2 separate regions of the Homo sapiens genome follow, and region 1 is linked to region 2. The links come from fine-mapping of genetic effects on gene expression. A gene starts in region 2. The other region holds a variant in brackets. All regions are shown on one strand. Distances are from middle to middle.

Evidence for each region. PIP is the estimated chance that this variant, and not a neighbour inherited with it, causes the effect. A credible set is the group of variants that fine-mapping cannot tell apart.
Region 1: its variant is the best candidate, but not a certain one, in a credible set for the expression of BRF1 in whole blood (TOPMed, PIP 0.87).

The regions. Positions count from the first base shown.
Region 1 is chr14:105,263,309-105,278,735 of GRCh38, reverse strand. It overlaps BRF1 (BRF1 general transcription factor IIIB subunit), which reads left to right. Exons shown (of 18, transcript NM_001519.4): 3 at 5,842-6,015. Among named protein-coding and RNA genes, the nearest start is that of BTBD6, 22 kb to the right of the region's middle. RefSeq lists an enhancer at 3,633-4,536. The variant C/T (reference allele first, on the strand shown) is at 7,812.
Region 2 is chr14:105,292,460-105,307,886 of GRCh38, reverse strand. BRF1 (BRF1 general transcription factor IIIB subunit) reads left to right here and starts at 6,886. Exons shown (of 18, transcript NM_001519.4): 1 at 6,886-7,441. The coding sequence starts at 7,258. It also overlaps the pseudogene LOC124903409 and a transcript of PACS2 not described here. RefSeq lists silencers at 6,205-6,574, 6,805-7,214 and enhancers at 8,065-8,144, 13,625-13,754, 14,395-14,514, 14,665-14,814.

The DNA of each region.
Region 1 (15,427 bases), 29 kb after region 2:
GGGGGTCTCACCATGTTGGCCAGGTTGGTCTTCAACTCCTGGGCTCCAGTGATCCTCCCACCTCAGCCTCCCAAAGTGCTGGGATGACAGGTGTGAGCCACTGCACCCTGCCAGAAATTTCTTAATTATAATGAAGTCCCAGTATATCAGTTTTTATGGTTAGGGCTGTTTGTGACTTGTTCAAGAAATTCTTATCTACTCCAAGGTCTGAAGATACTCTTGTGTTTTCCTCTGGAAGCTTTATTGCTTTATACTTTACATGTAAGTGGTGATATGCCTCAAATCTTTTTTTTTTTTTTTGGAGACAGGGTCTCGCTCTCTTGCTGCCCAGGCTGGACTGCAGTGGCAGGATCATGGCTCACTGCAGCCTCAACCTTCCAAGCTCAAGCAGTCCTCCTACCTTGGCTGGGCCTACAGGCTTGCACCACCACACCTGGCTGATTATTTTAGCAGTTGGATCTCACTATGTTGCCCAGGCTGGTCTTGAACTTCTGGGCTCAAGTGATCTACCTGCTTCAGCCTCCCGAAGTGCTGGGATTACTACAGGCATGAGCCACGGCACACAGCCTGAGTTTACTTTTAGAATTCATTTGTTGGAAGGAAGTCTAAGGAGACTCGCAGGCTATGGCTAGCTAATTAGTAGTTGGTTTCTATGTGAATATCTGTTTATTAATAACATATTTGGCCAGGCACAGTGGCTCATGCTTGTATCCCAGCACTTTGGGAGGCGGAGATGGGTGGATCACAAGGTCAGGAGTTCGAGACCATCCTGGCCAACAGTGTGAAACCCTGTCTGTACTAAAAATACAAAAAATTAGCTGGGTGCAGTGGCATGTGCCTGTAGTCCCAGCTACTCAAGAGGCTGAGGCAGGAGAATCACTTGAACCCGGGAAGCAGAGGTTGCAGTGAGCTGAGATCGCACCACTGCACTCTAGCCTGGGTGACAGAGCGAGACTCCATCTCAAAAAAGAGAAAGAAGATGGTAAAAAATAACTTACTGCAGTCATCATAAGCCCCCATTTTAGTCCTTTTGGGCTGCTGTAACAGAACACCATAGACCAGAAAGGCAAAACAGCAGGAATGTGTTTCTCACACTTTTGGAGCTGGAAAGTTTGAGCTGGAGATGGGGGAGACAGTTGCCTCCTCCCCAGCTCTCTAGTGAGGGCCGCCTCTCAGCTCCTTCTCACTGTGGCCTCCTCCCCAGCTCTCTAGTGAGGGCCGCCTCTCAGCTCCTTCTCACTGTGGCCTCCTCCCCAGCTCTCTAGTGAGGGCCCCCTCTCAGCTCCTTCTCACTGTGGCCTCCTCCCCAGCTCTCTAGTGAGGGCCGCCTCTCGGCTCCTTCTCACTGTGGCCTCCTCCCCAGCTCTCTAGTGAGGGCCCCCTCTCAGCTCCTTCTCACTGTGGCCTCCTCCCCAGCTCTCTAGTGAGGGCCGCCTCTCGGCTCCTTCTCACTGTGGCCTCCTCCCCAGCTCTCTAGTGAGGGCCCCCTCTCAGCTCCTTCTCACTGTGGCCTCCTCCCCAGCTCTCTAGTGAGGGCCCCCTCTCAGCTCCTTCTCACTGTGGCCTCCTCCCCAGCTCCCTAGTGAGGGCCCCCTCTCGGCTCCTTCTCACTGTGGCCTCCTCCCCAGCTCTCTAGTGAGGGCCGCCTCTCGGCTCCTTCTCACTGTGGCCTCCTCCCCAGCTCTCTAGTGAGGGCCGCCTCTCGGCTCCTTCTCACTGTGGCCTCCTCCCCAGCTCTCTAGTGAGGGCCCCCTCTCAGCTCCTTCTCACTGTGGCCTCCTCCCCAGCTCCCTAGTGAGGGCCCCCTCTCGGCTCCTTCTCACTGTGGCCTCCTCCCCAGCTCTCTAGTGAGGGCCGCCTCTCGGCTCCTTCTCACTGTGGCCTCCTCCCCAGCTCTCTAGTGAGGGCCGCCTCTCGGCTCCTTCTCACTGTGGCCTCCTCCCCAGCTCTCTAGTGAGGGCCGCCTCTCAGCTCCTTCTCACTGTGGCCTCCTCCCCAGCTCTCTAGTGAGGGCCGCCTCTCGGCTCCTTCTCACTGTGGCCTCCTCCCCAGCTCTCTAGTGAGGGCCGCCTCTCAGCTCCTTCTCACTGTGGCCTCCTCCCCAGCTCTCTAGTGAGGGCCCCCTCTCGGCTCCTTCTCACTGTGGCCTCCTCCCCAGCTCTCTAGTGAGGGCCGCCTCTCGGCTCCTTCTCACTGTGGCCTCCTCCCCAGCTCTCTAGTGAGGGCCCCCTCTCGGCTCCTTCTCACTGTGGCCTCCTCCCCAGCTCTCTAGTGAGGGCCGCCTCTCGGCTCCTTCTCACTGTGGCCTCCTCCCCAGCTCTCTAGTGAGGGCCCCCTCTCAGCTCCTTCTCACTGTGGCCTCCTCCCCAGCTCTCTAGTGAGGGCCGCCTCTCGGCTCCTTCTCACTGTGGCCTCCTCCCCAGCTCTCTAGTGAGGGCCGCCTCTCGGCTCCTTCTCACTGTGGCCTCCTCCCCAGCTCTCTAGTGAGGGCCCCCTCTCGGCTCCTTCTCACTGTGGCCTCCTCCCCAGCTCTCTAGTGAGGGCCGCCTCTCGGCTCCTTCTCACTGTGGCCTCCTCCCCAGCTCTCTAGTGAGGGCCGCCTCTCGGCTCCTTCTCACTGTGGCCTCCTCCCCAGCTCTCTAGTGAGGGCCCCCTCTCAGCTCCTTCTCACTGTGGCCTCCTCCCCAGCTCTCTAGTGAGGGCCGCCTCTCAGCTCCTTCTCACTGTGGCCTCCTCCCCAGCTCTCTAGTGAGGGCCCCCTCTCAGCTCCTTCTCACTGTGGCCTCCTCCCCAGCTCTCTAGTGAGGGCCGCCTCTCAGCTCCTTCTCACTGTGGCCTCACGTGGTAGAAGAGCTGGGCTAGTTCTCTGGGGTCCGGTTTTTAAGGGCACTGAGCTCATCATTAGTGCTCTGCCTCCTGACCTAGTCTCCCGCAAAGGCCCTGCATCTTAATACCATCCCCGTAGGGGATAGGATTTCAACATAGGAATTTTAGGAGTCAGACATTCTGACCATAGCAGCCCTGCATGCTGGGAACACGAGCTGGTGCCTGTGGGGTCGGGGCTTGGGATCGAGTCCCAGCCTCAAGTGTGTGGCCTCAGAGAGTACCTCTCTCTTACCTTTTATTACAGAATTTTCAAACATACAGCAGAGAGCTGGTAGGTAAGGAGCCGTAGCTTCAGCGGGTCCCCTGTCAGCTGACTCTGTTTCCCTCTGGGCCTTGCTGGGCCGCGGGGACGGTCTGTGCTGGTGTGTCTGGCTGGTGCTGCACATGTGCAGGTGGCAGCTGGCACGATGCCCTTTCTGTCCATTCTTTTGGGGTCTTGGCTTGGCCCAGGCCTCAGCTCTGGGGACAGTGACCAGCCTTCCACGTCAGCTCAGCTGGACTGCAGGCCTCAGAGCTGTATGAGCTCTAGGCAGGTGGCCTTAGGTGCTCAAGGTGGCAGGGCCACAGCCGGGCTGGGGGCTCCATGTGATGCTGCTGACTGCCAGGGGCCTGGCAGTGTGAGGCTTGACCTGGACCTGCCAGACTGTGTACCCTGGCCACCGGCTTCCTTGGGATGCAGGCTCAGCAGCTGCCCACCTCTGGCTGCTGGTCATCATTAGTGAAGTTTGGCGTGAGCAAAACATCAGCCCTCACTTTCTCCAGCTCATGTGCCCTTATCAAATAAATCTGGGAGGTCAGTTTTTGACTTTATATGGGGATGGAGGCCGCCTCAGGTAGTCTTTGCAGGAGGACTGTGGGTTTGGGTGCCAGAGGATGCAGTGGGAACTGGAATCTCCATGGCGGCAGCATTCCTCTGCATCGAGCCGTGACCCACCACACATGTCCTCTGGGTACCCCATGGGGCTAATTGCCTGGAGCAAGGACTCTGCCTGCCCACGACGCCCACTGTGCAGACAGAAGTGGGGGCAGTAAAGTTGGCTCAGGTGCTCCCCACACAGCCTGTGCTCTGCAGACAGAAGTGGGGGCAGTGAGGTTGGCCCAGGTGCTCCCCACACAGCCTGTGCTCTGCAGACAGAGTGGGGCAGTGAGGTTGGCCTGTACTCTGCATTGACATTTGTTTCCCAAGGTTCCTCCTGCCTGCAGGGCAGCTTTGCCATTTCCCTCCTGATGCCATCATGTGGCCCGCAGCTTTGGGAGGGTCTTGCTCCAGGGAGGCGCGTGTGCTCGGATGTTGCCGTCCTGGCCACCTCCAGCACCTCGCAGCCCCTAGGAGGGCGCAGTGGCCTCCGGTCTGCTGGGCATGCCCTTACCATGGTGAAGGGGTGGCCTGCCCCTCCACACCTGTGGGTATATCTCGTCAGGTGGGACGAGAGACTGAGAAAAGAAATGACACAGAGACAAAGTATAGAGAAAGAACAGTGGGGCCAGGGGACCGGCACTCAGCATACCAAGGACCTGCACCGGCACCGGTCTCTGAGTTCCCTCAGTTTTTATTGATTATTATTTTCACTATCTCAGCAAGAAGAATGCGGCAGGAGAGCAGGGTGATAGTGGGGAGAAGGTCAGCAAGAAAACATGTGAACCAAATAATCTGTGTCATAATTAAGTTCAAGGGAAGGTACTATGCCTGGATGTGCACATAGGCCAGATTTATGTTTCTCTCCGCCCAAACATCTCAGCGGAGTAAAGAATAACAAGGCAGTATTGCTACCAACGTGTCTAATCTCCCGCCATAGGGCGGTTTTTCTCCTATCTCAGAATTGAACAAGTGTACAATCGGGTTTTATATCGAGACATTCAGTTCCCAGGGGCAGGCAGGAGACAGAGGCCTTCCTGTATCTCAACTGCAAGAGGCCTTCCTCTTTTACCAATCCACCTCAGCACAGACCCTTCACGGGTGTCGGGCTGGGGGACGGTCAGGTCTTTCTCATCCCACGAGGCCATATTTCAGACTATCACATGGGGAGAAACCGTGGACAATACCCGGCTTTCCAGGGCAGAGGTCCCTGCAGCTTTCCGCAGTGTATTGTGCCCCTGGTTCATCGAGACTGGAGAATGGCGATGACTTTTACCAAGCATACTGCCTGTGAACACTTTGTTAACAAGGCACGTCCTGCACAGCCCTAGATCCCTGAAACCTTGATTCCATACAGCACAGGTTTCTGTGAGCTCCAGGTTGGGGCAAAGTGGCTGGGGCAGAGTTACAGATTAACACCTCAGGGCAAAGCAGTTGTTCAGGGCACAGGTCAAAATGGAGTCTCTTATGTCTTCCCTTTCTGCATAGACACAGTAACAGTCTGACCTCTCTTCCTTTTCCCTACACCATGGCCCTCCCTCTGGGCAGGTGCAGGGGATGGCGCTAGCCTGGCTTTTTCTCAGGCCGGGTGGCTGGCTCTTAGAGGAGAGGCTGGCGGGCGCAGGGCTGAGCAGAATGGGCCCTGCTGAGAAGGGACGGGTGGGCTGACCCAGACTCTGTGCGGTTGGGGAAGGCGGTGGCGCTGGGGCATGTGGCTGTAGGAAAAGGGGCATTCCCACTGTAGCCCAGGGCAGTCAGGGGCATAGCACCTGCCAGCCAGCCCAAACCAAGCCCTTGCCAGACACGCCGCACCTCAGAGCCCTGGAGAGAGGCACATTCAGCCACACCGCACACGCCACTCAGAGCCTAAAGAAGGGAAACAGGTAGAACAGGATCTCATGGCACATGGAGATCACAGAAAATTCACATTTCAGTGTCCTTAAATAAAAAGTGATTGGAACCCACATATAAAAAGTGAGCTCAGAAACTTACAAGGAAAAGCACAAATCTATATTCTTAAAGTTGCTGCTGTGGCCGTGTGATACTTTTCATGTTCTGTGGGAACATTTGGCTAAGAGCTGCCTCGTGCTGTGTCCTAGGGAGGCGCCACATCCACCACCTGGGGAACCAGCTGCAGCTGAACCAGCACTGCCTGGACACCGCCTTCAACTTCTTCAAGATGGCCGTGAGCAGGCACCTGACCCGCGGCCGGAAGATGGCCCACGTGATTGCTGCCTGCCTCTACCTGGTCTGCCGTACGGAGGGCACGCCGCGTATCCTTTGGTTTGAGAGCCTCCCAGAGGGCCCCATCTTGATGCTTAGTTGGCTCCCCTCGAATATTGGGACTTGGTAGTTGCAGTAACTTGGTGTTTGTCTTTAATAGAAAAACACCTTACTGGAAGAACTGTTTCAGTTGATCCAGGGCTTTCTGAATTTGGGGTCTCCTTTTACTGGATCGAAGAACTGGGGAGCTGGGCACCTGCCTTCCTCGCACAGCCCTTGGGCATGCAGAGCGAGGGTTCTGTCGGTGCCTGAGAATCATGCCCTGGATTCTCCCCACTTGTGGACCTACTGCGCCTTGGGTGCTGTCTCCACGTCCCCTGTGGTTCAGGCCGCCCTCTGGCCTGAGCAGGTGGGGTGCTGTTGCTGAGTGGGCTGCAGCCAGGCGTACACCGAGTGCCTGCAGCTGTGGACACCGTGACTGTGGGCGATGGGTGGGGAGGCCGCCGACCCTCAGCGGTGTGCAGCTCGGCCTTGTGCGTGGATACCGTGACTGCAGGCCGTGGGTGGGGAGGCCGCCGACCCTCAGCGGTGTGCAGCTTGGCCTTGTGTGTGGACACCGTGACCGCAGGCGGTGGGCGAGGAGGCCCCCGACCCTCAGCGGTGTGCAGCTTGGCCTTGTGCGTGGACACCGTGACTGCAGGCGGTGGGCGGGGAGGCCGCCGACCCTCAGCGGTGTGCAGCTTGGCCTTGTGCGTGGACACCGTGACTGCAGGCGGTGGGCGGGGAGGCCGCCGACCCTCAGCGGTGTGCAGCTTGGCCTTGTGCGTGGACACCGTGACTGCAGGCGGTGGGCGGGGAGGCCGCCGACCCTCAGCGGTGTGCAGCTTGGCCTTGTGCGTGGACACCGTGACTGCAGGCGGTGGGCGGGGAGGCTGCCGACCCTCAGCGGTGTGCAGCTTGGCCTTGCGTGGAGATCCAGTGTCTGGTGTTCTCTTGCACTGGTCTCTGTGCATCTGGTCCTGTGCCCACTGCTGCCATCTGCAGACACACACATGGGTCAGGAGCTGCCTTCGGCCTCTTGACAGGGAGCCCAGAGCCTTCCAGCCTCCTCTGCTCTGTGCTGTGCTGTCCACACCTGCTGTGCACCTGCATCTTTTCCCTGCTCTCTGGGGACTCCCCGCTTCCTGGTCCACACCCTCCTCATCTTGTGAGGTGCCTCCTGCAATGGCTCCCTGGGAGAGGGACCTTTTCCGAGCTGCGCCCCTCTGAAGGTGGTCCCCCTCCCTGCCCTGTGTCTGGTGGGCGTGGCGTGCCCGGCCACATGTCTGCCTCCCAGCCTGCGCCCCTGCCGTCGCCTTGCCTCCAGCATTCTCACTGGGCAGTTCTGTGGCCCTCTGGCTCCTGGCCCTTGCTGTGCAGCTGCGGGGCTTCAGCTCCTTGCCTCTAATCTCCACGTTCAGAAATCTCACGGCAGTGTGAGCCCATCAGGCCTTTGCTCTCTGACAGCTTCCTGTCCTGAGCTTCTGTTGAATTCGTCGTTAGATGTGTCTCCCTTCTTCTCTGTTACTCTGCCTGCCACACTGAACCCATGTGTTATCTCATCCTTTTTTGCACGTGGCTATCTTTTTGCTTTGGGACAGCACCTGAACTTTAGCTTCCAGCAGGCTGTTTCATTTCTTTCATGTTTTTCATCTCTAAGAGCTCTGGGTCTTTTCCGAATCTTTTTTATAATCTCCCGTCTTCCTGAGTGTGGCATCTTCTCACCTTGAGCTCTTTTCTGTCTTGGTCTGTTTTTCTGGTTGGTCCCCCTCGAGGGGTGTCCTGGGTGCCAGGTGATCCTGGTGGC[C/T]TGCTTCTCTTTTGAGTGGGGTGCAGGGAGGGCTCCTGGAGATGACGAGCTGGTAGCCTGCTGACGGTGCCTCTGGCCAGGCAACCCTCAGTATCAGGATCTTTCATTAAAATGTTACTTTTTTTTTTTTTTTCCAGACAGGGTCTTGCTCTGTCACCCAGGCTGGAGTGCAGTGGTAGTATCTCAGCTTACTGCAACCTCTGCCTCCCAGGTTCAAGCAATTCTTGTGCCTTAGCCTCTCGAGTAGCTGGGATTACAGGTGTGCACCACCATACCTGGCTAATTTTTTTGTATTTTTAGTAGAGATGGGGTTTCCCCATGTTGGCCAGGCTGGTCTCAAACTCCTGGCCTCAAGTGATCCACCCGCCCTGGCCTCCCAAAGTGCTGGGATTATAGGCATGAGCCACTGCATCCAACCCTGAAAATGTCCTTTTAACATTTTGAAATTTGGGCTGGGCATGGTGGCTCACGCCTGTAATCCCAGCACTTTGGGAGGCCTAGGTGGGCGGATCACGAGGTCAGGAGATCGAGACCATCCTGTCTAACACCATGAAACCCCGTCTGTACTAAAAATACAAAAAAAATTAGCCGGGCGTGGTGGCAGGCTCCTGTAGTCCCAGCTACTCGGGAGGCTGAGGCAGGAGAATGGCGGGAACCCGGGAGGCGGAGCTTGCAGTGAGCCGAGATCGCGCCACTGCACTCCAGCCTGGGCTACAGAGTGAGACTCCGTCTCAAAAAAAAAAAAAAAAAGTCCTTTCAACATTTTGAAATTTGTCATTTCTGCGTAAAAGTGTTTAAAGCACACGTGTGCCTTTAGGGACAGGGATGATGCAGAGTGCCCAGGCAGCCCACTGCAGGGCGAGAGACAGAGCCCACGCCCGCGTCCCTGCCCGCCCCGCCTGCTGTCTGCTTGCCCCGGCTCCACCCTGGGGTCCCACTGAGAGGCCTGCTCCGATCCTGCTCTCTTAGAAGCAGACCAAGGTCCTGAGCGAGAAGCTGAGCAGAGCCCAGGGTCAGCCCATGGCCCTGCCTCCCTTGTGTTTGTAGGAGCTGTGTGGGGACTGCTGTGGAGCAGGGCCTAGGGTGCAGGCCGGCACTGGGACCCCAGCGTCAGCAAGGTGGGGTGGAACCACGTCCATGCTGCTGCCTCACTGGGCCTCCTGTGGGGGGGACAGATGCCCTGGGACATGGGCCTTCATGGGGTGATGACAGGCAGGACGGAGAGCAGTCCTGTGGCACTGCCGGGGCTGCCTCTGAGTCTGGCAGGACCACCTTTAGCCACAAAGTTCCCACACGCTCCAGCGATCCTCCTACTAAGTGTGTGCCCAAGGGAAAAGAGTACCTGTGTCCCCACCGAGGCTCACGCACAGTGCTCACAGTGGCAGCATCCAGGAAGCCACCCCGTGTCCCCCACGCATTCTAAAATTAGATCCTGGTGGTGGTTGCTCAGCTCTGGGGATTTACGAAAACCCACTGCCCGGTGCACTGTGAACAGGCAGGTTTGTGGCACAAACTTGTACCTTATAAAGCTGCTAAGGACAAGACAGCTTGGAACAGGACTGTGCTCACGGGAGGCCGCACTCTATCCCCTCTGGCTGCTGGTGGCCTGGTGGGGCTCCCTTCAGCATCCTCAGAGGATGCTTCGGGCTGGTCTCGGGTAGCTGTAGCCCTCACTTCCCAGCCCACCCCTGCTTTGCCGGCACTTTAGAGGGAAGTGGGTCAGGCCAGGTGTAGCATGTCCCGCTCTGCCCTCCCTTCAGGTTGCGGGCAGCACCGTGCCCTAGGCCTGCCAGCCAGAGCCCCCAGACCCATCCTGGACACGTCTCCGTCTCTCACCGCCCTCCTTGTTTTCTCCTGCCCCTGTGCCTTCTCCCTCCCTGCTGACCTGCATTGGCTCTGGCCACTGTCCTCGCCTCCTGCAGCCCCAGCTGGCTGGCTGGGCTCATGTGCTGCCTCAGTTTCCTCAATAGCTCCACCCACTTCCCTTCCACAGAAAATCCACCCAGGAGAGGGTGTGTGCAGCCAGGCTCTCTTCTCCGAGACAGGGCTGCTTGGCCCAGCCCTGCTGCCTGCACAGCTCCCGTCACCTTCTGGACTCGCCACCTTTAGCCAGGGCGCAACAGCACCCACCACCCCACCTCCACCCTGCCGTCAGCAGGACGTGGAGGGTCCTGTGCAGTGAGCTTACGTTGTGGGGTGCATGGCCCCCACCCCAGGAGAGGCCCCCCAGGATCCTCCTATCGTATCGTCCAGCCCATGGGTGGGACCAGTGCCCTGAGCCCAGGGCTGGATACAAGAAATCCTCTCTCAGAAGGAACAAGGGCTTGATTTAAGAACATCCAAGCTTATTCCTCCTTCTGCCCACCCTTCATTGTTGCCCGATCCTCAGGTGTGTCCACTATCACCCCGAAAGTGCCGGGGGCTGTGCACACACACCTCCTCTCTTGGCCCCGTAGCCTGGTGGCTGACACAGCCAGTCCCGGATTCCTGGAGGAGGAACGGGGTGCTGCTGAGTCCCACTGAGTCTGGCAAGGCCCGGCTGACCCTAGGCCTGAGTCTGCTCCTGGCTCCCAGCCCAGGGAGGCTGCGTGGGCAGCAGGGCTGAGACACGGGACCTGGACATGCCGGGCAGAGACTCAGCTGGAATGAGCACCTCTGCCATTGTCGAGCAGGTAGTTTGTGGCCAGTGTGCTTTTCCTGGCTGTGTGTCTCGACTTGTTATTGCAGCTTTTGCCCACAGCTGGTTTGTGGGTCTTTGACATTTGTTCCTGTCCAGCCAGGCTGCCCTAGGCCTGCATGTGAGAGGGCATCTTGGGATGGTGACAGGCTGGTGAGCCCTAGAGGGCGTCAGAGCCCTGGGGCCAGCACTGTGGATGGTGCCATCACCTGTCCCCACGTAGGTCTGCAAAGAGCATGCCCAGCTTCCATGGCCTGCCAGCCTCAGCCTCCATGGCGTGCCTGGCCACGCGTGGGAGCAAGGCCTCTGCCGCCAGCCGCCACACTCCCTTCAGACCCAGCTCCTCTCTCAGGCTGCAGAACCGTCCGTTCAGGTCAGCAGGGGCCATGTGCATTCAGCTTATTCCATTCTGGGGTCTGGGATGGGCTTTCAGAGCCCACACTTCTCTGCCCCCCTGTTCTGGCCAGCACCTCCTTCTGCCACCAGGCCCCCTTGTTCCTGCTCCTCTCCCTCTGCTGCCTTCTCAAGGACAGGGCATTTATAACAGTTTAAGTGGTCAGAAGAAGGTATTAGGATGGCTGATGAGGGAATCAAATGGTGCACACATCATTAGGCATGAAGACGTTGGCATTTCAGGTCAGGCACAGTGGCTCACGCCTGTAAATCCCATCACTTTGGGAGGCCCAGGCAGGAGGATTGCTTGAGTCCAGGAGTTTGAGACCAGCTTGGGCAACATGGTGAAACCCCGTCTCTACAAAAGAAAAAGAAAACAAAAAAAAAAATCCAGCTGGTGGTGTGTACCTGTGGTCTCACCTACTGGGGAGGCTGAGGTGGGAGGATCGCTTGAACCCAGGAGGTCGAGGCTGCAGTGAGCCATGATCGCACCACTACACTCCAGCCTAGGCAATAGAGTGAGCCCCGTCTCAAAAAAAAAAAAAAGTTGCCATTTCAGACTTCCGAAAGGCTGACCTGGAAACACCGGCACACCCAGCGTGGGCCCATGTGGGCCCCTTGTCGGTGGTGTCTTGTTGCTGGCGTAGCAGAGGTTTAGCTGAGTTTTGTATGTTGACATTATTAATACATCATTCCTACCAAATTCAATTGTCGATCTTACTGTTTGAGTTTTGGAGTCTCTCCTTTAATGCACACAACTGTGTCTGCTGCTCATAATGCCAGTTCTGCTTCTTTCTTTTCATTTTTTTCATGAGACAGGATCTCACTTGATCACCCAGGCTGGAGTGCAGTGGCGCAGTCTTGGCTCACTGCAGCTTCTGCCTCCCAGGCTCAAGCGATCCTCCCACCTCAGCCTCCCGTGTAGCTGGACTACAGGCATACACCACCACCCCTGGCTAATTTTTGTACTTTTTGTGGCGACGGGGTTTTGCTGTATTGTCCAAGCTGGTCTCAAACTTCTGAGCTCAAGTGATCTGCCTCCCTCAGTCTCCCAAAGTGCTGGGATTCTAGGTGTGAACCCCCCGCCCAGCCTTGGTTCTTCCTTTCTAACCCACACACCTCTCATCTGTTTGTCCTGCCTTTTGTATGCCGAGGACTCAGCATGGTCCTGGGGAGGGAGATGTGCCTGGCTCTCTCCTGTCCTGGGAGGGGTGTTTTCTGCCCTTCGCTCTATGTATCTGCGGTAGACTTTTGTGTATAGGACTCTTTATCAGCTTGAGGATGTTACCTTGCTTTCTAATTTTCCAAGAGTTTTTGTCATGAAAAATACTGAATTTTATCAAACACCAATGTATTTATTGGTATGATTTTTTCATGTACATTTTCCCCTTAATCTGTTACCTAACGTAAATAACACTGATTAATTTTTTAAAATTTTTTAGAAACAGGGTCTTGCTCTGTTCTCCCAGGCTGTACCACTGTGGCACCACCCTAGCTCGTTGCAACCTCCAACTCCCTGGCTCAGGCGACTCTCTCGCCTCAGCATCCCGAGTAGCCGGGACCATAGGTGCACTAGAGATGGGGTCTCACTGTATTGCCCAGGCTGGCCTCAAACTCCTGGGTTCCAGTTATCTTCTCATCTTGGACTCCCAAAGTGTTGGGATTACAGGTGTGAGCTATTGTATCTGGCCTGTTTTTTCTAACATAAGCACTCGAGGCTATAAATTTCTCTCTAGGTGAGTTTCGTTACATCACACGGTTTTTTGTTTGTTTTGTTTTTTTTTGAGACAGAGTCTCACTGCCTCACCCAGGCTGGAGTGCAGTGGTGCCATCTCGGCTCACTGCAACCTCTGCCCTCTGGGTTCAAGTGATTCTCCTGCCTCAGCCTCCCGAGTAGCTGGGATTACAGGTGCATGCCACCATGCCCACCTAATTTTTTTTTTTTTTTTTTTTTGAGAGGGAGTCTTGCTCTGTCGCCCAGGCTGGAGTGCAGTGGCATGATCTCAGCTCACTACAAGCTCTGCCTCGCGGGTTCACACCATTCTCCCGCCTCAGCTTCCCGAGTAGCTGGGAATACAGGTGCCCGCCACCACACCTGGCTAATTTTGTTTTTGAATTTTTAGTAGAGAAGGGGTTTCACTGTGTTAGCCAGGATGGTCTCAATCTCCTGACCTCGTGATCCATCCGCCTCGGCCTCCCAATACTGCTGGGATTACAGGTGTGAGCCACTATGCCTGGCCCATGCCCAGCTAATTTTTGTATTTTTAGTAGAGAGGGGTTTCACCATGTTGGCCAGGCTGGTCTCAAACTCCTGACATCAGGTGATCTGCCCACCTTAGCCTCCCAAAGTGCTGGGATTACAGGCGTGAACCACTGCACCCGGCCCACTACCTGCTTTTAAGAAATATTTTTGTGTTTGGATTTGGCAGTTTGACTCTGATGTACCTAGATGTGGTTTTCTTTGTGTTTATCCAGATTATTTTTTGTAGAAGTTCAAGGATTTGTGACTTGGCTGGGTGTGGTAGTTTATGGGTGTAATCCCAGCGCTTTGGGAGGCTGAGGTGGGTGGATCACTTGAGGCCAGGAGTTTAGGACCAGCCTAGGCTAATAAAAGAAATTAGCCAGGTGTGGTGGTGCACACCTGTAGTCCCAGCTACTCAGGAGGCTGAGGCAGGAGGATCACTTAAGCCCAGGGGTCAAGGCTGCAGTGAGCTGTGATGACATCAGTGCATCAGTGCATTCCAGCCTGGGCGACAGAGTGAGACCCTGTCTCTAAAAAAACAAACAAACAAAAAAAAAACAAAAAAAAGGATAAGTAGAACTTATGACTTGATGTCTTTTGTCTACGTTGGAGACATCTTGGGTAGTATCTTTTCAAATAAAGTTTCTGCTCCACTCTCTCTTCCTGTTCTGGGACTCCATATATTAGCCTTTCTCTCTTTTGCTCATCCTTTCTTTTGCTGTGTCTAATCAGGTGTTGAACCCATCTACTAACTTCTTAATTTTTTTTTTAAGAGATGGAATATCGCTGTGTTGCCCAGGCTGGAGTGCAGTGGTGCAGTCACAGCTCACTGCAGCCTTGACCTCCCAGGCTCGAGCAATCCTCTCACCTCAGCCTCCATAGTAGTTGGGACTACAGGTATGCGCCACCACACCCACTCAATTTTTTTTTTTTTTTTTTTTTTTTTGAGATGGAGTCTCATTCTGTCACCCAGGCTGGAGTTCAGTGGCACAATCTCGGCTCACTGCATGCTCTGCCTCCCGGGTTCATGCCATTCTCCTGCCTCAGCTTCCCGAGTAGCTGGGACTACAGGCACCCGCCACCATGCCCGGCTAATTTTTTTTTGTATTTTTAGTAGAGACGGTGTTTCACTGTGTTAGCCAGGATGGTCCCGATATCCTGACCTCGTGATCCGCCCACCTCGGCCTCCCAAAGTGCTGGGATTATAGGTGTGAGCAATCGCGCCTGGCCATCAATTTTTTATAGAGATGAGGTCTCACTGTGTTGCCCAGGCTGGTCTTGAACTCCTGGGCTCTTTATTTTTTGTAGAGAATGGTGTCTTGCTATGTTGCCCAGCCTGGTCTTGAACTCCTGGGCAGAAGCTATTCTCCTGCCTTGGCCTCCCAACGTGCTAGGATTATAGATGTGAGCCATCACTAAGACTCCTTTTATTAGAGTCCAGTTCTTTGGTAAGATTCTTCATTTCTTCATAGTTAGGTGAAAGTCATTGATAAGCCAAATAGTTGAATCATTTGTGGTTCTGTTTTTATTATCTTGATTTTCTTTTTGTTTTTGTTCCTTTGGTCTTGTCTTTTGTCATGCTTGGTAATTTTTCATTGAATCGCTGGAATATTAGGTCTAAAATATTACAGAGATGATGGATACTTTTCCATCCAGAGGGAATTTAACTTTTCTTTTTTTTTTTTTTTGAGACAGAGTCTCACTCTGTTGCCCAGGCTGGAATGCAGTGGCACCATCTCTGCTCACTGCAAGCTCCGCCTCCCAGGTTCATGCCATTCTCCTGCCTCAGTCTCCCAAGTAGCTGGGACTATAGGTGCCCGCCACCACATCCGGCTGATTTTTTGTATTTTTAGTAGAGACAGGGTTTCGCCGTGTTAGCCAGGATGGTCTCGATCTCCTGACCTCGTGGTCCGCCCATCTCACCCTTCCAAAGTGTTGGGATTACAGGCGTGAGCCATCGCGCCCGGCCGGGAATTTAACTTTTCTTGAGCAAGCAGAGAGCACGCAGGTAGCTCACTCTGATCCAGTTGCTGCTGGTCCGTCTTGGTTCCCGGCTGAAGGATCGTGGCAGGACCCAGGTGTCCCTTCCTGGCACCTCGGGACTGCAGAACTTCCTGCTCGGCTCTTTTGCCTTTCAGAGCTGACTTCTGGGCTTGGCGGGCCTCAGCCTGGTGCCTGTGGCTCCAGGGGCGGCAGCTGCCGTAAAGGGACTAAGTGCACTGTGCCCTGCTCGCTTGTTGAAGTTGCTTCCTCTTCTCTTGGCAGCTTGGCCCCTCGTGTCTGGCTGGCTCGGAAGCCACTGAA
Region 2 (15,427 bases):
GTGGTGGAAGGTGGACTGGAGCCTCACCAAGTCTCACTCGAGTTGCGGAGAACAGACAGGAACAGGGACTTGCCTTCTGAGCAGTCTGTCTACCAGACACATGTCCTCCATCATACTCCGCAGTGCTAGGGTGGGCTATTCTTATCCCTGTTATGCAGATGAGGAAGTAGAAACCTAGAGAGATTGAAGCACTTGCCCAAGGCCAGGCAGCAGGTGAGAAGGTGAGAAGGCCATAGAAGCTTGCTTTCTCATTTCCCCTGCTGACTGCTGCATGGGGGGACAGGGCTATTGAGTACCCAGGAGTTATTTTGATCAAATGTGATAAGATGACAGACACAGAGACAACCGCCTTTGAAAGAGGAGTTTATTACTCACAGTTCCCAGGAGGAGGGGCACGTGGGGAAGCACCCAGGGCCAGTCAGGACAGGGAGGGGGTGAAGGGAAAGGGTGGGCAAGAGCCTTTATTGCCATTTTCCAGGCAAGGCAGAGGAGGCAAGCTGAGCAGAATTAGAACTGGGTCATTTCAGTGGGCTCTGGGCTTGGGGGTGGTATCTAGCTAGCTGGTACCTGGCCTTGGGGTGATTTAGGGCAGGGGGCTAGTGTTCAGGAATGCAGGAGCCTGATGAAAGGAGGCAGGTGGGACTCATGATGGTTGCTCTGCATATCAAAGGTATGCTCAGCCTGCACGGTGGCTCAAGCCTGGGATCTCAGTACTTTGGGAGGCTGGGGCCAAAGGATCTCTTGAGCCCAGCAGTTTGAGACGACAGTGAGCTATGATCATACCACTGCACTCCAGCCTGGGTGACAGAGTGAGACCCTGCCTCAAAAAAAAAAGAAAAAAAGAAAAAATAAAGTAAATAAGGCATACTCAGAGGCAAGTGGTCAGCTGTCTCTAGGAATTAGCTAACCCTGGGAGGGGAGTCCCTCTCTAGGTCCACGAGACCCCAAGATGTCAAAGCACCACAGATGAGAACACGATGGGGCTTGGCACGGTGGCTCACGCCTGTAATCCCAGCACTTTGGGAGGCCAAGGCAGATGGATCATTTGAGGTCAGGAATTCAAGACGAGCCTGGCCAACATGATGGAACCCTGACTCTACTAAAAATACAAAAATTAGCTGGGCGCAGTGGCAGGTGCCTGTAATCCTAGCTACTTGGGAGGCTGAGGCAGGAGAATTGCTTGAACCCGGGAGGTAGAGATTGCGGTACATCAAGATCGTGCCATTGCACTACAGCCTGGGCGACACAGCGAGACTCAGTCTCAAAAAAAACCCCCAAAAAACAGGCCAGGTGTGGTGGCTCATGCCTATAATCCCAGCACTTTGGGAGGTTGAGGTGGGCAGATCACGAGGTCAGGAGATCGAGGCCATCCTGGCCAACATGGTGAAACCCCATCTCTACTAAAAATACAAAAAATTAGCCGGGCATGGTGGCATGCACCTGTAATCCCAGCTAATCGGGAGGCTGAGGCAGGAGAATCGCTTGAACCTGGGAGGCAGAGGTTGCACTGAGTCGAGATGGCGCCGCTGCACTCCAGCCTGGGGGACAGAGCAAGACTGTGTCTCAAAAACAAAACAAAACAAAACAAAACAAAACAAACCCAAAAACAAAAGACACCATGAATGAAGAAAGCCTCCAGGAGGGGAAGTTTGCAGGTGCCTAGGCGTGTCCTTCAAAACTCTAACCCTGCTGGTCAGGTCATTTTTCTCAGGCCCTGAGAAAAGGAAATCCTTCCTGGTCTAAGTGTTACGAGCACGTTCAGTTCAGATTAAAGCAATTCTCTCATTTCAGTGCAACACCTACATTACTTTCCAGCTCTCTGGGGCCCCCATGAAGGAATGTTCCTGCCCCACACCCCCAGCCTGGGCCCCGCTCTGCTGCTGTGTGCTGGAGTCAGGTCTAGGGGCAAGCCCACAGCCTCTCCCTGTTTACAGCCAGAGCGGAGATCACTGCACGTTTCCAGCGTCCTCTTTGGCGCGGTGCGAGTGAGGGTCCTGCCTTGCAGGGCTGAATGAGGAGTACAGAGGACCCTGGGCACAGGAAGCTGGTGCTGGGTGCCCAGTGTGGGTGCTCTGAGGGCACTGGTGCCCCTTGGCCGCCCTTGCTTGACTCTTTGAGCTTGTCAGTCAGTCCTAAATGTTTCCAAGCTTCCTGGGGCGCTTGCAGCATGGGGCACCTAACCGGTCCCCAGGGCAGTTCTCCGCATTCTCCCTCTAACCTGGCTCCATTCTTTATGCCTTCACATCACGTGGGGAGCGTTACTCCCTGCCTCAGTTGGTTCACACTGCAATGGCAAACCACCACAGTCCAAGTGGCTTATAAACCACTATTCATTTCACAGGACGGTGCTGGCAGATGCCGTGTCTGGTGAGGGCCACTTCCTGGTTCATAGACAGTGCCCTCTTCCTGCATCCTCACATGGGGGAAGCAGCAGACAAGCTCCCTCCAGCCACGTTTTTTCTTTTTTCTTGTTTCTTTTTTCTTTGAGACAGGTTCTCAATCTGTCGCCCAGGCTGGAGTGGAGTGGTGTGATCTCAGCTCACTGCAGCCTCAACTTTCTGGGCTCAAGCAATCCTCCTACCTCAGCCTCCCAAGTAGCTGGGACTACAGACACATGCTACCACAACCGGCTAAGTTTTTGTAGTTTTTGTAGAGTCAGGGTTTTGCCATGTTGCTTAGGCTGGTCTCAAACTCCTGGACTCAAGCAATCCTCCCTCCTCAGCCTCCCAAAGTGCTGAGATCACAGATGTGAGCCACTGTGCCCAGCCAGCCACTTTTCTGAGGGCATTAATCCCGCTCATGAGGGAAGCAGCCCTCATGACCTCATCTCCCAAAGGCCCCACCTCTCTAAAACCATCGCCTTGGGGCAAGGACGTCAACATATGGACTTTGGGGGAACACACATGATATGATTTGGCTCTGTGTACCCACCCAGATCTCATCTTGAATTCCCACATATTGTGGAGGGACCTGGTGGGAGGGAATTGAATCATGGGGGCAGGTCTTTCCCGTGCTGTTCTTGTGATTGCGAATAAGTCTCACGAGATCTGACGGTTTTATAAGAGGGAGTTTCCCTGCAGAAGCTCTCTCTCTCCCTGCTGCCATCCACGTAAGACGTGACTTGCTCCTCCTTGCCTTCCTCCATGATTGTGAGGCCTCTGCAGCCACGTGGAACTACAGGTCCAATAAACCTCTTTTGTTTGTTAATCGCCCAGTCTCACGTATGTCTTTATCAGCAGTGTGAAAACAGACTGATACAATGCACATTCAGACCATAGCACCCCTCCTCTGCAGCCCATCTGAGCAAAGGCTTAGTTCTGGCAGCACGCACCTTGGGCCATTGCCCAGTAGAGCCTCACCCTTTTTTATATTTTATTTTATTTTATTTTATTTATTGTGAGATGGAGTTTCACTCTTGTCGTCCAGGCTGAAGTGCAATGACGCCATCTCGCCTCACCACAACTCCCGCCTCCCAGGTTCAAGCAATTCTCCTGCCTCAGCCTCCCGAGTAGCTGGAACTACAGGCGCCCACCATCACACCTGCTAATTTTTGTATTTTTTGGAAAGATGGGTTTCACCATGTTGGCCAGGACGGTCTTGATCTCTTGACCTCGTGATCTGCCCTCCTCAGCCTCCCAAAGTGCTGGGATTACAGTCCTGAGCCACCGAGCCTGGCTGAAACCACACCCTTTAAACCTCTTACCGTTGTGGGTGTGGTCTTCCCCACCCTCTGCTCCTCTGGCCAATCCTGTCCTGTACAGCCTGACTGTCCTGTACTGCCTGACTGTCCTGCACCGCTGTGGCCTGGGAGGCATGCTGCCCCTTGCACCTGCAGGCACCTCACAGGCTTTGGTGAGGGAGCACACGAAATAACCCCTCTAGTCTGTCAGGTGAGAGCAAGGATCCAGTGGCCACATGGCCTCAGATTGGATTCTGGCTTTGTTACCTACTGGCTATGAGATTTGGGGCTGTCACCCCTCACATCCTCAAGGGCTCCCTCCATAAAATGGAGACAACAGTGTCTGCAAGCTAGTGTTGCCATAAGGATGAAATGTCATCATGGACAGAGAGCATTTTGCATAGAGATCAATAATACATATTTGAAAAATCCCCAACATTTAGAAACAAAACAATACACTTCCTAATAACCCTTGGATCCGGGAGGAAATTAAGAGTGGAGACAATCTTGAGCTGAATGAAAATGAAAACACAGCACATTGAAATGTGCAGGATTCAGCTAAAGTGGTAATTACAGGGAGAATTATAGCAATAAAATGCCTATTTATAAAGGAAAAGAGATCTTAAATCAATGATTTCATCTTTCACCTTAAAAAACTAGGAAAAGGCCAGGCGCGATGGCTCACGCCCATAGTCCCAGCACTTTGGGAGGGCGAGACAGGTGGATCACGAGGTCAGGAGATCAAGACCATCCTGGCTAACACAGTGAAACCCTGTCTCTACTAAAAATACAAAAAATTAGCCAGGCATGGTGGTGGGCACCTGTAGTCCCAGCTACTTGGGAGGCTGAGGCAGGAGAATGGCATGAACCCGGGAGGTGGAGGTTACAGTGAGCCAAGATCGCACCACTGCATTCCAGCCTGGGTGACAGAGCGAGACTCCACCTCAAAAAACAAAACAAAACAAAAACTAGAAAAAGGGGCCGGGTGCATTGGCTCACGTGTAGAATCTCAACACTTTGGGAGACCAAGACAGGTGGATCACTTGAGGTCAGGAGTTTGGGACCAGCCTAGCCAACATGGTGAAACCCCATCTCTACTAAAAATACAAAAATTAGCTGGGCGTGGTGGCACATGCCTGTAATTCCAGCTACTTGGGAGGCTGAAGTGACAGAATCACTTGAACCTGGGAGGTGGAAGTTGCAGTGAGCTGAGATGGCACCACTGAACTCCAGCCTGGGTGTTCTCTATCTCAAAAAAAAAAAAGAACTAGAGAAAGGGCGGGGAGCAGTGGCTCATGCCTGTAATCCCAGCACTTTGGGAGGACAGGGCGGGGAGCAGTGGCTCATGCCTGTAATCCCAGCACTTTGGGAAGACAAGGCGGGTGGCTCACTTGAGCCCAGGAGTTCCAGACCAGCCTGGGCAAATGAGGCAAAAACCCATCTCTACAAAAAATATTATCTGGGTGTGGTGGCACATGCCTGTAGTTCCAGCTACTCGGGAGGCTGAGGTGGGAGGATCACCTGAGCCCAGGAGGTAGAGTCTGCAGTGAGGCTTGATTATGCTACTGCACTCCACCTTGGGTGACAGAATGAGACACTATCTCAATTTTTAAAAAATGAAGAAACTAGAAAAAGGGAACACATTGAACCAAATTAAGTGGAAAGAAGGATCTAACAAAAATGAGAGCAGAAATTAATGAAATAGGGCCATGCACGGTGGCTCATGCCTGTAATCCCAGCACTTTGGGAGGCTGAAGTGGGCGGATCACCTGAGGTCGGGAGTTCAAGACTGGCCTGACCAACATGGAGAAACCCCGTCTCTACTAAAAATACAAAATTAGCCAGGTGTGGTGGTGCATACCTGTAATCCCAGCTACTCGGGAGGCTGAGAGAGGAGAATCGCTTAAACCCAGGAGGCAGAGGTTGCAGTGAGCCGATATCTCACCACTGCACTCCAGCCTGGGCAACAGAGCAGAGACTCCGTCTCAAAAAAAAAAAAAAAAGAAAGAAAAAAAAGAGGGTGGGGTCTTCCGCATTTCCTTTTTTCTCTTTTTTTTTTTTGAGACAGAGTTTCACTCTTGTCACCCGTCACCCAGGCTGGAGTGCAATGGCGGGATCTCAGCTCACTGCAACCTCCACCTCTCAGGTTCAAGTGGTTCTCCTGTCTCAGACTCGCGAGTAGCTGGGATTACAGGCGCCCACCACCAAGCCTGGCTAATTTTTTTGTATTTTTAGTGGAGACGGGGTTTCGCCATGTTGGCCAGGCTGGTCTCGAACTCCTCACCTTACGTGATCCGCCTGCCTTGGCCTCCCAAAGTGCTGGGATTACAAGCGTGAGCCACTACGCCTGGTTACGCATTTCTTTTTAGGCTCATTCCTGGGTATGTCACCGGCCCTATGGCGATTGTGAACAGCACCTGCAGATATTTGAGGGCGTGCGCAGCCAGGGTTCCCGCTCTGGGCAGGGGGCACAGCGAGGTGACTCACGGGTAACCACAGGTGGCCACGAATGACTGCTAGAAAGTGGGAATTTTAGGGGAACAGAAAACGGAGAATAGCGGGGCGCACGGGGAGGCTCTGGAACCTGGGCGAGCGGAGCGGCGGACGCCGCAAATGCGGAGGGCGGGGCAGGGTGGCCCCTGGCGGGTGTCTCCACCTCTGCGGCCAGGCCCCCCAGCGCAGCTGCCCTGGCCCCGCCCACCACTCCCAGAGCCCGGGGTTGGGTCCCAGGTCGCCCTCAGGAGCCAAGGCCCCGCCCACCACGCTCGGCCCCCTCGCCTCAAGCCCCGCCCACAGTTCGGGTCCAGACCCAGGCTCCGCCCCCTTCCCCCGCCCACAGCTCCAGTTCCCTTCGCAGGCCGTCTCTCCACGGGAGGCCCCGCCCCCCACCCTCAGCCCCGCATCCGGCTGAGTCCTCACCCCAGGCCTCGCTCGCCGCTGGAGACCGCGCTCACTATCCGAGGAGGACCCTCCTCTGCCCCGCGTCCAGCTTTAGTCCCCGACTGCGTTCATCGCCAAGGGCCCGCCCACTGCCTTAGGTCGCGTCGCCAGCCTTGGGTCCCGTCGCCAGCCTTGGGTCCCGTCCCCGGCTGCACTCACCGCGAGGCCCCACCCTTAGCTCTAGTCCCCGGTGTCGCCCACCGACGAGGCCCCGCCCCAAACTCCAGTCCCGGGCTGCGCTCACCGCCGTGGCCCCGCCCCCAAGCGCCAGTCCTCGGCTGCGCTCACCGGTAGGCCCCGCTCGGGTTCCGCCGAAGCCCAGCCCCCGCAGGTCGCCCCTCCGACGCCGGCGCGCCGCAAGGGAGGCCAGCTCGCTCGCAGTGGGGAGGTCGCGGCTCCAGTCCTCGCGTCCCCGCCGTGGTCCCGGTGCCTGTCCCATCCCGCGGGCGCGGCCGTTGCGGGCGGCGCGGCCCGGGCGCGCGCGGCGAATCTGCGGCTGCGAATCGGCTGGAGCGGGGCCTCGCGAGAGCGGCGAGGCCTGGGCGGCTGGGCCTGGGCGGGCGGCGCGGGCTGCTCCGGAGGCTCGGGTGGCTTGAGAGTCTTGGGAGGCTCCGGGCGCTGCCCGCGCGGTCGCCGGCATGACGGGCCGCGTGTGCCGCGGTTGCGGCGGCACGGACATCGAGCTGGACGCGGCGCGCGGGGACGCGGTGTGCACCGCCTGCGGCTCAGTGCTGGAGGACAACATCATCGTGTCCGAGGTGCAGTTCGTGGAGAGCAGCGGCGGCGGCTCCTCGGCCGTGGGCCAGTTCGTGTCCCTGGACGGTGAGTCCCGCGGGCTGGCGCTGCGCGGATTTCTCGGTGCGGCTTAGGCGGGCTGGAGGCGGTGACGGCGCGGCCGGGACCAGCGCCTCGGTACCGCACGCTCTGTCGGGGCGCGCGGTTCTGCGCCGTCTGGGCGCGAGTGTGGATCCCCTTGGCGAGAATGTAGACCTTCTTCGCGCGCCTGTGGACCCCCGTGGCGTGCGTGGACTTCCTCGACACACGCGTGGGCCAGGGCAGCCAGCACAGGGAGGGTTGAAGAGAGCCTGGGGAGCCCAGAAGGCCCCTCAAGCTGCCCCTCACTGTCACTCTCTGTGCCTGCAGTTTTGTTTTCAGCAATGTCTGGTACTTAGAATCCGATTGCTGCTGCCCTTGGCCTTGGTGGTTACCGGGCGGATGCCCTAGGGCCACTCAGGCTGCTGCAGGCCTCGGAGGGGACGTTTCAGTGATGGGCAGTATTGCGGGCTGGGGATGGACCCCAGCCTGTGGAAGGAGCTGGACTGTGGCCAGTTTCAGGTGGTTGTGAATAGAGCTGCTAAAAGGATTCATTTGCAGCTCTCTGTGTGAACATACGTTTTCATTTCTCTGGGGAACTTAGCTGTATGTGTAACTCTATGGGAAACTGTCATGAACTGTTTTGTGATGTGGCTGTGCCATTATGCATTCTCACCAGTTGCCCCACATCTTCACCAGCACTTGGTGTTGTCGATGTTTTTATTTCGGTTGTTCTAACAGGTGTGTGGCATCTCATCATAGTGGTATTCTGTATTTCTCTACTGGCTAGTGATGTTCAACCTTATTAGGGTGCTTATTTGCCATGCCCGAATCCTCTTTGTTGAAATGTGTGCTCAAGTCTTATTTTTTTATTTATCTCGAGACAGGATCTCACTCTGTGGCCCAGGCTGGTGTGCAATGGCCCAGTCATGGCTCTCTGCAGCCTTGAACTCCTAGGCTCAGGCAATTCTCCTGCCTCAACCTCCTGAGTAGCTGAGACTACAGGTGCATGCCACCATGCTGTGATCATTTATTTTATTTTATTTTTAGTAGAGACAAGGTCTCTATGTTGCCCAGGCTGGTCTCAAACTCCTGGGCTCAAGTGATACTCCAGCCTTGGCCTCCCGAATTGCTGGGATTACAGCGTGAGCCACCACACCCTGACTCTCATTTTTTATTTGGGTTGTTTTCTTATTGTTGAGTTTTGGGAGTTCTTTGTGGATTGTAGTTACAAGCCCTTTGTTGTATATGTGATTTTCAAAGCAGAAGTTTTTTTTCTTTTGAGATGGAGTCTTGCTCTGTTGCCCAGGCTGGAGTGCAGTGGCTCGATCTCGGCTCACTGCAAGCTCTGCCTCCCAGGCTCACGCCATTCTCCTGCCTCAGCCTCCCGAGTAGCTGGGACTACAGGAGCCCACTACCATGCCCGGCTAATTTTTTTTGTATTTTTTAGTGGAGACGGGGTTTCACTGTGATAGCCAGGATGGTCTCGATCTCCTGACCTCGTGATCCGCCTACCTCGGCCTCCCAAAGTGCTGGGATTACAGGCGTGAGCCACTGCGCACGGCCTCAAAGCAGAAGTTTTAACTTTTTTTTTTTTTTTGAGACAGAATCTTGCTCTGTGGCCCAGGCTGGAGTGCAGTGGCACAATCTCGTTTCACTGCAACCTCTGCCTCCCAGGTTCAAGTGATTCTCGTGCCTCAGCCTCCCAAGTACCTGGGATTACAGGCGTGCGCCACCTCACTTGGCTAATTTTTGTATTTTTAGTAGAGACAGGGTTTCACCCTGTTCGTCAGGCTGGTCTTGAACACCTGACCTCAAGTGATCCGCCTGCCTCAGCCTCCCAAAGTGCTGGGATTACAGGCGCGAGCCACCGCACCTGGCCTAAATCTGTGGTCCATCTATGTTTTGTATAAGGTGTGCTTTGTAGGCTGAGGCTCATTGTTTATCTGGAGGTCCCCTTGTTTCAACACCGTTTGTTGAAAGACTGAAGGCCTTTGCTCCCTCGGCTGTGCTCACTGGGCCCCGTCCGTGCAGGTCTGTCTCTGGGCCTTGTGTCCTGCCCTGTTGATCAGGTGCCGTTTTCCTTTGTCAGCATCACACGCTTTTTTACTATACCTGTTATATTGTCCTGAAATCAGATATTGTGAGTCCCTCAACCTTTGTTCTTCCTTTTCAAAGTTGTTGTGGCTATTAATTTCCCTTTCTCTTTTTAATTTTAGAGTAAGTTTGTGCATCTCTGCAGGTCACATATTCTTACCTGAAATGCTTGGGACCAGAAGTGTTTTGGATACCAGAGTTTTCTGATTTTGGAATATCTGCATTATAATTACTGGTTAAGCATCCCTAATCGAAAAATCTGAAATCTGAGATGCTCCAGTGAGCATTTCCTTTGAGCATCGTGTTGATACTCAAAAAGTTTCATGTTTTGGAGCATTTATTTTTTATTTTATTTTTTTCTTGAGACGGAGTCTCGCTTTGCTGCCCATGCTGGAGTGCAGTGGCACTATCTCGGCTCACTGCAAGCTCCGCCTCCTGGCTTCACGCCATTCTCCTGCCTCAGCCTCCCAAGTAGCTGGGACTACAGGCGACCGCCACCACGCCCGGCTAATTTTTTGTATTTTTAGTAGAGACGGGGTTTCACCGTGTTAGCCGGGATGGTTTCGATCTCCTGACCTCGTGATCCACCTGCCTCAGCCTCCCAAAGTGCTGGGTTTACCAGCGTGAGCCACTGCACCGGGCCGTTTTGGAGCATTTATAATCTCAGATTTTTGGATTTGGGATGTTCAACCTGTACAAAAGTCCTGGTGGGGTTTTCATTGGAATTGCATTAAACCTCTTGATATATTTAGGGAGAGCTGACATTTTTTCTTTCTTTCTCTTTTTTTGAGACAGAGTCTCACCCTGTCACCCACGCTGAAGTGCAGTGGCGCGATCTGAGCTCACTGCACCCTCCGCCTCCCGAGTTCAAGTGATTCTGCTGCCTCAGCCTTCTGAGTAGCTGGGACTGCAGGCACACGCCACCACACCCAGCTAATTTTTGTATATTTTTTAGTAGAGACGGGGTTTCACCACATTGGCCAGGCTGGTCTCGAACTCCTGACCTCGTGATCCGCCCTCTTCGGCCTCCCAAAGTGCTGGGATTACAGGTGGGAGCCACTGTGCCCAGCTGACATTTTTTCTATGTTGAATCTTGTAGTCCATGGAACACAGTGTATGTTTGCATTCATTTAGATTTTCTTTGATATAGTCTGTCAGTGTTGGGTAGTTTTCAGCATACAGCTTCTGGACTTTTTTTTTGAGATGGAGTCTCGCTCTGTCACTCAGGCTGGAGTGCAGTGGTGCAACCTCGGCTCACTGCAACCTCTGCCTCTTGGGTTCAAGCGATTCTCGTGCCTCAGCCTCCCAAGTAGCTGTGATTACAGGAGCCCACCACCACGCCTGGCTAATTTTTGTATTTTTAGTAGAGACAGGGTTTCACCATGTTGGCCAGGCTGGTCTCGAACTCCTGACCTCAAGTGATCCCCCCCCACTTCAGCCTCTCAAAGTGCTGGAATTATAGGCATGAGCTGCCGTGCCTGGCCCTCTGGACATTTTTTAGATGTGTACCTAAGCTCTATTAGGAGTTATTATAAGTGGAATTTTTTTAATTTAGTTTTCAACTCTTCATTGCTTGTTTATATAAATATGGTTGATTTCTGTGTGTTGTCCTGTTTCCTATGGCTTTGCTAAACTTACTTGTTCTAAGAGGTTTTTTTTTTTTTTTCTTTTTTTTTGAGCTGGTGTCTTGCTCTTGTTGCCCAGGCTGGAGTGCAGTGGCACCATCTTGGCTCACTGCAATCTCCGCCTCCCAGGTTCAAGAGATTCTCCTGCCTCAGCCTCCCAAGTAGCTGGGATCACAGGCACCCGCCACCGCACCCAGCTAAGTTTTTTGTTTTTTTTTTTGAGACGGCGTCTTGCTCTGTCACCCAGGCTGGAGTCCAGTGGCACAATCTCGGCTCACTGTAAGCTCTGCCTCCCAGGTTCATGCCATTCTCCTGCCTGAGCCTCCCAAGTAGCTGGGATTACAGGCGCCCAGCACCACGCCCGGCTAATTTTTTGTATTTTTAGCAGAGGCGGGGTTACATGGATGGTCTCAATCTCCTGACCTCGTGATCCGCCCACCTCGGCCTCCCAAAGTCCTGGGATTACAGGTGTGAGCTGTTGCACCCGGCCGCAGTTTTTGTATTTTTAGTAGAGATGGGGTTTTGCCATGTTGGCCAGGCGATCCACCCGCCTTGGCCTCCCAAAGTGCTGGGATTACAGGTGTGAGCCACCACACCTGGCCCCTAAGAGTTTTTAATACACTCCTTGAGTTTTTTTTTTTTTTTTTTTTTTGAGATAGAGTGTCGCTCTGTTGCCCAGGCTGGAGTGCAGTGGCGCAATCTGGGCTCACTGCAACCTCCCCCTCCTGGGTTCAAGCGATTCTCCTGCCTCAGCCTCCTGAGTAGCTGGGATTACATAGGAGCCCACTACCATACCCGGCTGGTTTTTGTATTTGTAGTAGAGATGGGGTTTCACCATGTTGGTGAGGCTGGTCTTGAACTTCTAATCTCAAGTGATACACCTGCCTTGGCCCCTGAAAGTTCTGGGATTACAGGCGTGAGCCACCGCACCCAGCTTTTTTTTTTTTTTCTGGGACAAAGTCTCACTGTTGCCCAGACTGGAGTGCAGTGGTGTGATCACAGGTCACTGCAGCCTGGAACTTCTGGGTTCAAGAGATCCTTCCACCTGAGACTCCAGAGTAGCTAGGACTACGGGCATGCACTACCATGCCCAGCTAATTAAAAAAATTTTTTTTTGGTTGGGGAGACAGGGTCTAGGGTCTTGCTCAGTCACCCTGGCTGGAGTGCAGTGGTCATGGCTTACTGCAGTCGTAACCCCCTGGGCTCCAGTGACCCTCCCAGCTCAGCCTCCTGAGTTGCTGGTACTACAGGTGCGCCCTACTATACCCAGCTAATTTTTGTATTTTTCTTGTAGAGATGGGGTTTTGCCATGTTGACCAGGCTCGTCTGGAACTCCTGGGCTCAAGTAATTCTCCCGTCTTGGCCTCTCAAAGTTCTAGGATGACAGGTGTGAGCCAACGCCAATTTTTTTTTTTTTTTTTTTTTTTTTGTAGAGATGTGGTCTTGCTTTGCTGCTCAGGCTGGTCTCGAACTTCTGACCTCAAGGCATCCTCCCACCTTGGCCTCCCAGAGTGCTGGGATTAGCGGCATGAGCTGCTTTGCTCAGCGCCGGATGTTCTGTTGAGGGTTCCTGCTGATGCTTGCGTGGGATATTGGCCTGTAGTTTTTCCTGTAACGTCCTTGTCTTGGGTATCAGGGTTCTGCTCCTTATGGAATGGGTTGGGAAACGTTTCCTCTTCTATTTTCTGGAAGACATTATGTAGAGTTGGTGTTCTTTCTTTCTGAAATGTTTGGTAGAATTCACCAGCGTAGCCATCTGGTCCCAAAGCTTTCTTTCTCAGAAGATTCTGCACTGTGGTTTCGGCTTCTTTCATCACTGAGGTTCTAGTTATATTTAAGATGCTGTGTTTCACCTGGGGTGAATTAGCCGCTTGTGTTGAGGAATTGGTCCACTTGACCTAGTTGTTGAATTTGCCCAGAGAGTTGTTCGAAGCATTCCCTTATCCTTTTGATATCTGCGGGGTCCACAGTGGCCTCCTTTTTCCTTTCAGATGTTGGTGTTTTGTGTCTTTTTTTCCCTTTGTCTCTCTTGCTAGAAGTTGATCCGTGTTTTTGATCTTTTCTAAGAACTGGCTTGGGCTTCATTGAGTTTTCTCTCCTGCTCTTCCCTCCCCATCGTCTTCCATGCTCATACTCCCTGGGTATCTTCCTAGGACTGCTGGGCACAGAGTTTGCAGCTGTGTCACAGTTGCCAAGACTTGGATGTCTGTTGGGATGATAACAACAGTAATGAAAGCAAGTTGTCATGGCAGCAGACGCAGGGTTTCCCGGGCAGGCACAGTGTTAAGTGCATCCGGGCCTGGTGACAGCGCACTGCCCTCACTGTGCCCTGCCGGGGGAGGATGGTGGTGTGGAGCAGTGCAGAGCTGGAAGTCTGTCACCCGGGTGCTGTCAGAACAAGCTCAGAGCCAGCGCTGTCAGGTGGCCCCAAGACGCCTCTGAGCCCAGGCACACTCTCTGGAGGGAGGCGCAGGCCCAGCAACCAACTGTGGTGGTCCTGGGGGAAGTGCTGCGAGGCGGCGGGTTCTTAGCCCCTGGGGACCGGCGCAGGTGGTGCCTGGGCCGAGAGTGGGGAGGAGAGAGGGGATCTGTTGCTCTGGGCAGCCCCTCTGTCTCCCAGGCAGGCTCTCTAGGTGCCCACTTGGCATCCTTCCTCCCTCGTCACAGTGGTGATCACAGGGGGCTGGAAACCTTGGTGGCTTCTCAGTTTCCCTGGCACACAAGTAGGCCCCAGCCGCCCCTTCCTCCAGCTTCATCTTGAAAGCTGAGCTTTCTCTCTGAGCTGTCGTTTTCTAGTCCCAAGGCCACTGTCTTTCCTAGGTGTTTTGCCTATTAATTGAGAACTAAGCCTGATACAGCTTCGCAGTTTACTCTGGAATATTTAACTAAGGCATCAGGGCAGGTGACCAGAGGCCTCAGGAGAGTCCCCAGAGGGTCCTGACCTTGGAAGCCAGGCCCCACGGGGGAAACCACACTGGTGCTCCAGCGTCCCGGGGCACCCGAGCAGAGACTGTGCAGAGAGAAGGGTGGGTGAGGACTGAGGCTCAGCGTGGCTGGAGGGGCCAGGCAGACGGTGGAGTTGGGGGCCGTTGGCAGTGCCCTGAGGAGGCCGTCTGCTCCACTGAGGCAAGGCGGGGCTTCCCTGTGAGCCCACATCAGTGTCCTGCACTGTGTGTGCCCTGAGGCTTCCCTCTGCCAGCAGGTGATGGTGATGGCGCCCACACACCAGACATCCTGGGCTCCTGCTTGCAGGGGTCCCTCCTCGTCCTGTGCAAGGAGCAGCACACCTCAGTGTCACCAGAACTTGTGGGGGTGGGGAGCGTTTCCCGTAATCACAACTTTCAGTGGCTTCACAGTTAGAACTTCGAAGCTGGGGTGTCCGTGAGTGCTGCTGTTTTCCGTTTGGGGTCACGATGCAGCCGGACCTAATTTGTGACATGGCTGCATGTCACCTGGCGCTGGCCCTGGAGGGGGACATGGGTGGTGGAGTTGCCCTCGCCTGCTGGGAAGCTCCCTCTGCCTCAGAGAAGGATGTGACCGGCCAGCCTCTCCCTGCGGCCTGGGGTTCTGAGCATGCGCCTGGCCTCCTGGCGGGGCTCTAGTCCTGAGGGTGGAAGGCTCCAGGCTTCTGCCTCTGCTCCATGACCCCCAGAACCCTAAGTTGTGGCTGAAGGTGCCTGCTCTTAGGAAACGGGTGAATTCTGTCCCGTTGCCATCTGGGTGAGGGAGGAAGCTGCTGGTTAGCCTGCAGCGTGACACACGTCCTGTTTTCCGTAACCAAATTGTAATCACTACAAAACCAGCTCCTCCGCAGTGGCCTGGGGAAGGGGCCTGGGCTTGGGAAGGGGTCTGGACCTGGGGAGGGGATGTGGGCCTGGGGAAGGGGTGTGGGCCTGGGAAAGGGTTGCTCCTGGGAAGGGTCTGTGCCTGGGAAGGGGTGTGCGCATGGGAAGGGTCTGCGCCTGGGAAGGGGTGTGGGCTGCCGTGCTTGGCCCTGTTTGTCAGTGCTCCTCCCAGATGTCTGATGCTACTGCATCCAGCCCCACCAGTAGGCACACGCTCTGTGTTCCCGGGTCCCCGTCCCCAGCTCTCAGGGATGCACTGCGGTCTGGTCCAGCCTCCTTTGGGCACTCACCTGTGGGACCCCTGAATTCCTCTCCATCCATTACTGCCCAGCCAGCCAGGCCTCCTACAGGTGTCTCCCCTTAAAAGAAGTTTCCAGTCAGGTTTGGTAGCTCATGCTTGTAATCCCAGGATTTTGGGAAACCAAGGT